Linked DNA regions of Homo sapiens. The protein of the gene in region 1 interacts with the protein of each later gene in a pairwise test. Each region holds a gene or a part of one and is shown on either strand. Other genes may lie near its edges. The genes, in order: HIVEP1 and SP4.

Region 1 (3,823 bases):
TGGGCCAGGCACGGTGGCTCATGCCTGTAATCCCAGCACTTTGGGAGGCCGAGGCGGGTGGATCACGAGGTCAGGAGTTCAAGACCAGCCTGGCCAAAATGGTGAAATCCCATCTCTACTAAAAATACAAAAAATTAGCTGGGTGCGGTGGCAGGAGCCTGTAGTCCCAGCTACTCAGGAGGCTGAGGAAGGAAAATCATTTGAACCTGGAGAGTGGAGGTTGCAGTGAGCCAAGATCGTGCCACTGCACTCCAGCCTGGGTGACAGAGTGAAACTCCGTCTCAAAAAAAAAAAATCCTGTATGTGAAGTAAAATTTCATATAAAACAAAAGTTAACAATAACCACCTGGTTTATCTGTTCAGGCAATTAAAATTATCACAAGTTTTTAATCAGAAGCTACCAAATATTGGAAGAAGCATTTCCTACTCGAGGTTCAAAAATGTAAACAAATTCCCTGAGTATAAATCATCTCAACCCTCTAGTTTGCTAAAAAGTTGACACAACCAGGCCAGGTGAAGTGGCTCATGCCTGTAATCCCAGCACTTTGGGAGACCAAGGCGGGTGGATCACTTGAGGTTAGGAGTTCAAGACCAGCCTGGCCAACATGGTGAAACCCAGTCTCTACTAAAAATACAAAATTAGCCGGGGGTGGTAGCACAGGCCTGTAATCCCAGCTACTCCGGAGGCTGAGGCAGGAGAATTGCTTGAACCCTAGAGGCGGAGGTTGCAGTGAGCCAAGACAGCACTACTGCACTCCAGCCTGGACAACAAGAGTGAAACTCCGTCTCAAAAACAAAAAGTTAACACAACCAAATATTCTTCTGTTGCACACAGATGACCAAAATGGTCTCTTCTAACATATTATAATCCCGCTAAGATAAGAGACCTGGAGAAGAATGATCATGATGTAATATTGTAAGTACAAGAAGGCACATGTGGACACAAGCAAAGGAGACCCAGGGCATGTCTGTGGAGGGGAGGAGGATATCTGACAAGAGAACAGAAAATGGGGGAAAAAACTCAGAGGTGAAATCTTTAGCAGAGACATCTCCCATACAGAGTAAGAAAACAGTAGAAATGGAAAAGGAGAAGAAGTAACTTCCAGAAAGACAACCAAGCACAGAAATACCGGATGTGCATGCTGAGCTCCTGAAATGGCAAATGGCTATGCACAAGATGCCGTGGAGAACAAGAAGGCCAACCGTGGAAAGCGACCCCATGTGTCAATCAAGGCCATGATCTGATCACATTCCTCAGTGCTACTTCTCACATTTTAAGGAGTCTGGGCCGGGTGCGGTGGCTCACGCCTGTAATCCCAGCACTTTGAGGCGGTTGGATCACCTGAGGTTAGAAGTTTTGAGACCAGCCTGGCCAACGTGGTGAAAACCTGTCTCTACTAAAAATACAAAAAAATTAGCTGTGCGTGGTGGCAGGCGCCTATAGTCCCAGCTACTTGGGAGGCTGAGGCAGGAGAATGGCTTGAACCTGGGAGGTGGAGCTTGCAGTGAGCCAAGATCACACCGCTGCACTCCAGCCTGGGTGACAGAGTGAGACTCCGTCTCAAAAAAAAAAAAAAAAAAGAAAGAAAGAAAGAAATCTGGTTCTCAGACAGGAAAAGAGTTCTCATTTTTTGCAGAGTGTTCGGAGCCAAATGAACTCAACCAATAAAAATGAAAAACAGCTACACCAAATTTTCAAAACATGTTTTGCAAAAGGTTAATACTTAGTATTTTCCACACTGACTTCCAATCTTAAAGGAAATGAAGCTCTGAAACCCTAGGCCCAAATACAACTAAAGTAAGTAACACCTCTTTTCCTTTTTTTCAAAGCTTTGAAACACATTCACAAGAATGAGTGGCAAAACACGAATAGAGCCCTTTATCACAACGGAAGAGGCATGGAACCCCCTGCAAGTCACCAACTCCTCCATTCCATGTTACTCAAGGGTCCAAGCGAAGGCCTGAGAAGGTGGTGGAGATAACCCCTCCACAGAGCAGCGATGAGTAAGGAATGATGGCTGGGAGACACAGCGCTGCCCTGCTGTCAACTCACCAAGACCATGCGGAAGAGCCACCCCGTGCAGTCCAGTGACCCTTCTCCACGGAACCCAGGACAACATGCTAAGCCTTTCTTCTGAACACCAAGTGCTGCTCTCATGCTCTTCCAAAATTCTTCAACCTCACAAAGGATAGGTCGGTGTCAAAACGGCACCCACCACGTTTCCTGCAGATGGGAAACAGGCATGGAGAACTGATTCTATCTGGTTTAACGCTGGGCCAAGGGTGAAGAGACTGAATTCAACAAAACCACAGTCCTACACAGTATACAGATCACCCATCAAGTCGGACACTGTCTCACTTATGTCCCCAATTTGTTTCCTGCCCTTAACCTAACAATTCTTCTTATACCTTTTCTAGTAAACAACCTCTAAGAGCAAAGAAGTAGATACTCCATCTCCTTATAAAAGCAGTCTATGCAGGCTTAATTTTCAAATCCATGCAAACTTTCTATACTCTTCCATGATAGATTCCGGTATTGCACATTTTTATGCTTGCCTAATACTTTAATATGTGTATACGTGTGCACACACAGACAAGTATACGTATTTTTCCCCAAGTAAAATTCACATTCCTGAAAGATACATGTTACCCTGTGGCTTTGCACATCCGTAGGGATATATCTGTCCCAGCAGGAGAACCAAGAATAAATCAAAGAAAGATTACATTCTAAGAGGTGAAACTACCATGGAAGCATAAGAAAAATATAATTTGAGAAAGTATCAGGTATCTGCCTTTTAATACGGACTTGATTACCAAGCACAAGACAAACATTTCAGACTATTTCCCCCAGGAAGCCTAAAAAGAGGCGATGGGTTTCCTGAAAGCTCCTGAGCTGACGGCAGAAACAGTAGGGGCAAACTGGGCTGTGACTCCTCTTCTGGTCTCCCAATTTCCTCTCCCCGCATTTCTTATCTCATCGCATTAGAGATGTCTTCTAGTAAAGCAAAGCAGTGGATCACAGGTAGGGCACAACAAACCTGATATTCCAAACTGTCACAATGAGATATTAAAGATACGCTCAAAAATTAATCTCAGGAGCTGATGGTTACCTGCTTACTCTAACCCCCACATCCTTCCCAGGGCTCGAGTCCTTACAGACATTGTGAGGAGCGCGGAAGTTTCTAGGTGTCACCGCCGAGCACCAACCCCTCTGTCCCTTTGCTTACTCAGGGTTTCCCATGGGGACCTAGAGCTTCACTCCCGTCCCCCGCTGCTGAGTGAGCTACACTGGCTCAGAAGCCGCCGCTTCCCTGAAGTCTTCCCCTTCCCCATCAGAAGTCCCACTGAGGTGGCTTTAGTGTGCTTACTAGAGCTAATCTATTCCAATCTTTTCTTTAGTGGCTGTGAGTTCTTAACTACCTTAGTCAAACAACTTCCTAAACGCTCACAGACAAGTCAGACACAATTTATTCCAAGTTCTCTTTGAAAACTTTAAAAATATCTTAAAGAAGCAAGTTTTCTTATTAAAACTTTTAACTCTACATATGAAATGTAGGCTTAAATCTGAGGGCCTTTCCTGATCTGATTCCTCCTGATTCTCCTGCTCCAGTATCCTGCCTCTCTGTCTCCTTCTCATCCCTCCTGAAGAGAACTTCTTATGCTCTAGAAGTAGAGAACCATTTAAAGTTGCTCAGAGTCCCCAAGTTATTTCACAACCTGCTACCCCAGGATGAAATGCACTCACTTTGCCTTGTCAGCTTCGCAGATAACTTCCCAGCCTTAAGAACCAAATCCAGGTGTTAACTTTCCTTCCCTAAATCAT
Region 2 (3,823 bases), on another chromosome or scaffold:
CTTACTACCTAAAACCTAGAGTCTTTGGAGTCTTCTGTCAGTGGGCCAGCGTACTTCTCTTGCTGCCTAACATCCTACCTCCGCCACCCTGGGCCAAACCCTCGCTTTGCTATGTCTATATCTGGTGTGAGTCTGGAAATGTGTTAGCTGAAGTTGTTACAATAATGTATTCATTATGTTACTAAAGGTCTTCATGAGATTTGCAGGGCTCTCCCAGGAGGAAGACAGTTTCTGCTTGTAGTCTTTGTGGCATCTATGTGGCCTATATTGCTTCTCAGTGATTCTGTGAGCTTAAATAATATTTTAATTATGTTTTTCGTTTTCAGGTCTTCCTATAATTTCCTAACATTGATTGCTTAAAATATTTAAGTAAAAAGTGTCTCTAAATCAAATTTTAATTTCCATAAATGTCTAGAGCAATGGCTACAAATTAACATGCAATTTGAATTGGAGTTCTTTGGCGGTATGTTCAGAGAAATGGTGACCAGATCTCAATACGAGGAATTACGAACGGTGGCCAATGTGTTCTCCAGTGAGAAGCATTTAACTCTCCAGTGTTCATGATAAGTAGGTTGATAGTTCAAATAATTTATTGCTGCTTTATAGTATACATAATTAAATGAAACATGTTAAACTCAAGGGAATTTTTAATAGGTTACTTGCAATTGTTATTGCAGGCAACAACTTGTACATGATTTTATTTCCAAATCCACAAAAAACAAATTTTATACAAATCAGCACTGTAAAAATGTCAATTACAGCCCCAGAGGCTTTGCTGGCAGAATAATTGTCTAAATTCTAGAATATGGGAAACAGGTTTTTTTCTGGATTCATCTTTTTTTTTCATTTTTTTTTTTTTACAAAAAAAATTTACAAGTGAAATGTTACTACAAAACTTTTTATAAGGAATTTTTGCAAAACATTTACATTTTACCATCAACTATTTCTGTTTTAAAATCATTATGTAGATTTAATACCCTATGCTGCACATCAATTTATGTGGGATGACAACTTAGTGACATGCATAAAAAAACACCACAAGGCATTAAAATGGAGACTTAAATACAAATATTGTTGCAATAAAACAGTTATAAAATTGAAAAATAGGACCTAAACATCATGCTTATCTAAGTTTGACAAATTAACTTTTTCTCCTAGATTACACACTTTTATTACTGCTCTCATGAGAGTGTGATAAATGACTTAACATCAAGTTCTAATGTAATCAGCAACACATACACAAACCTAACCAAAGAAAGTATACTGTAAGAAAAAACTATTCTAACACTGGAGTTTTACCATGATAAATACATAGCTTTGCACTGATAATTACAATAAAGAAAAGTTTTATAACGGTGGTAAAGGGAATGAACAGTGAAATGCCATTAAACAAGACTCTACTGCACATCTGTGCCCTATTACTTATAACAGCTATATCCCACTGAGTCAAATAAAGGACACTGAAATTTACGATTCTTCTAAAGACAGAAAAGTAGACTCAGAATGGTATGCAGAACAGACTGTCAAAATATTTCTAATTTCAGTGGTGAAATGTGCACCTGCTAACACAAATTAACATATTTTATATGCTATAAAGCTATCTAGATTCATCTGATAAATTTATAATAGGCCTCATTGTTGATTAAAAAATAACTTCCATTTCTAATGGACATACATAGGTTTGCATTAGAACTGGTTCATGGAATAATGATGCAGAGTGTTCATACTTGGTATTAACAACAACAAAAAGTGTCACTCTGAGGAAACATGATTAAAACATTAAGAAAGTTTCTTTGCATAAAAAAATTTATAGCACTGATTGTGTAGCATAATGATAGATAAAATATATATTTGATGTTTCAGCTCCTATATAATAAAATTAAAATGAACACTACCAAATGCTCCTCTGTACCAAACAAAACAACAAACCAATTCTGATGTTTTAAAGCCAGATACATCAGTTGTTAAGAGTACATTAAATAAAATATACAAAACAATTTACAAAATCCAACTTAAATTTAAAGACTCTGTTACAAGTCTACAAAAGCTTTAAGAAACTTGAAATTTATAACCACAGTGTAAAAATTTTTTTTTTCCTTTAATCTCAAAGCTTTTTTATACAAACTGAAAGCACAAAAGACCTTCAGTTTTATATAACGCTACAAAGGGCTGGCCTAAAGTGTACATAGTGTAAACAGTGATCATTACAGTATTTCTCCTTCATCAAAAATACAAGAAACATCACAATTTTGGAAGAGAATTCGCATTAGTACTTTTCCTGAAATTATAGAGAATGCACAAGAAAACACGTACCTATATTCAAACAGTCCCCAAAGCAATGATGTTAATAAATTGAGCAGGTAGGTAAAAACTTTTAGTTTTCAAATGGTCAATTTCACTGATTATGATTCTGTGTAAATACTTTTTTAAAACATAAAATATCCTTATTAATATTTAAGTTACTGGTTTATAATCCAATTTTTTTCATATGAAACTTTTGGCCATCTTTCCTAGTAAGACCCTTTCCTAGCCGGGCATGGTGGCTCATGCCTGTAATCCCAGCACTCTGGGAGGCCGAGGTGGGCAGATCACCTGAGGTCAGGAGTTTGAAACCAGCCTGGCCAACATGGCGAAACCCTGTCTCTACTAAAAATACAAAAATTAGCCAGGCATGGTGGCAGGCGCCTGTTAATCCCAGCTACTCAGGAGGCTAAGACAGGAGAATCGCTTGAACCTGGGAGGCGGCGGTTGCAGTAAGCTGAGATCGTGCCATTGCACTCCAGCCTGGGCAAGAGAGCGAGACTCCATCTCAAAAAAAAAAAAAAAAAGACCCTTTCCTGTAAGACCCTTGCATAAACAATAATATAGTTTTTTTCTTTAGTCACTTACTTCACTGAAAATTATTCTGCCTTTTCAAAAATAAAAGTTTTGCTTCATAATATATCTATTATATATTAGGCTAATTTTTAGGGAAAATTCAGTTATTGATGTAACATAAAAACATTACTGTGTTATAATTCCTAATTACCTTCTTACATAGCACTAGAAATAAAATGGGACTGGCCAATTTTTAGTAGAGGAAAACAAGAATTACAATGTAGTTAAAAGAGAATTTTCTGCTGGCCTTGGAAAAAAGTGTAATTCTTTCTTTGGCTACCACATCAAAGCATAAAGAATTCTGCACATTGTCAACATAACTCATATTTACAAAATATGAAACTACAGAACAATTTACACTCTATGCAAATATTTCCAAATATAAACATTTTAAATGAAATTTTGTGGTTCAACCTAGGGTTAGGAATATAATCAATCCTAACTTTAGAACATTGCATGTTAAGATGCCTCATTTTATTTTTCTGAAGCTATGATGAGTTTTGTTTTAACCATTTTTTTCCCAGCATTTTCCTAAGGTGTCAACCTAAAATTTAACCTAAGATTTAACTCTATGTTCCTCTTGTGTCTCCAAATGGAGAAAGTAATTGGACTTCACTGATTGTCTGCATACACACTACTATAATGTAGTGGTAATAAAGATCTGAGATGCATCTCAGATTACTGTTTTGGAACTTACCTAATTCAACTGTTGAAGAATTTCTAACATTTAGAAAAGACGGCCAAACTATTTTCGGTTGATTTTCCAAAAATCAAGCTAAGGAAATACAGTATTATCCCTATCATCAGTTAACTATCTGTTTTCTGTGCTATAGAGAAAAAGAATACACGTAAATTATTACTGACTGAATTTATAACAAAGTACTTTCAAAGAAAATAAGTCCAATTAAGGTCCAGCCTGCAAACTACTAAGGTCTTTTTAAACATG

The links.
Region 2: the proteins of HIVEP1 (region 1) and SP4 interact in a two-hybrid assay, tested with the Homo sapiens proteins (one large-scale study listed by BioGRID).

The regions. Positions count from the first base shown.
Region 1 is NC_000006.12:12,018,649-12,022,471, reverse strand, and holds part of HIVEP1 (zinc finger protein 40), read right to left. Parts: intron 2,225-3,823; exon of another isoform or gene 2,121-2,224; coding exon of another isoform or gene 2,054-2,120; intron 1-2,053.
Region 2 is NC_000007.14:21,511,568-21,515,390, reverse strand, and holds the end of SP4 (transcription factor Sp4), read right to left. Parts: 3' UTR 569-3,823; downstream 1-568. UniProt on the Homo sapiens protein: Binds to GT and GC boxes promoters elements. Probable transcriptional activator.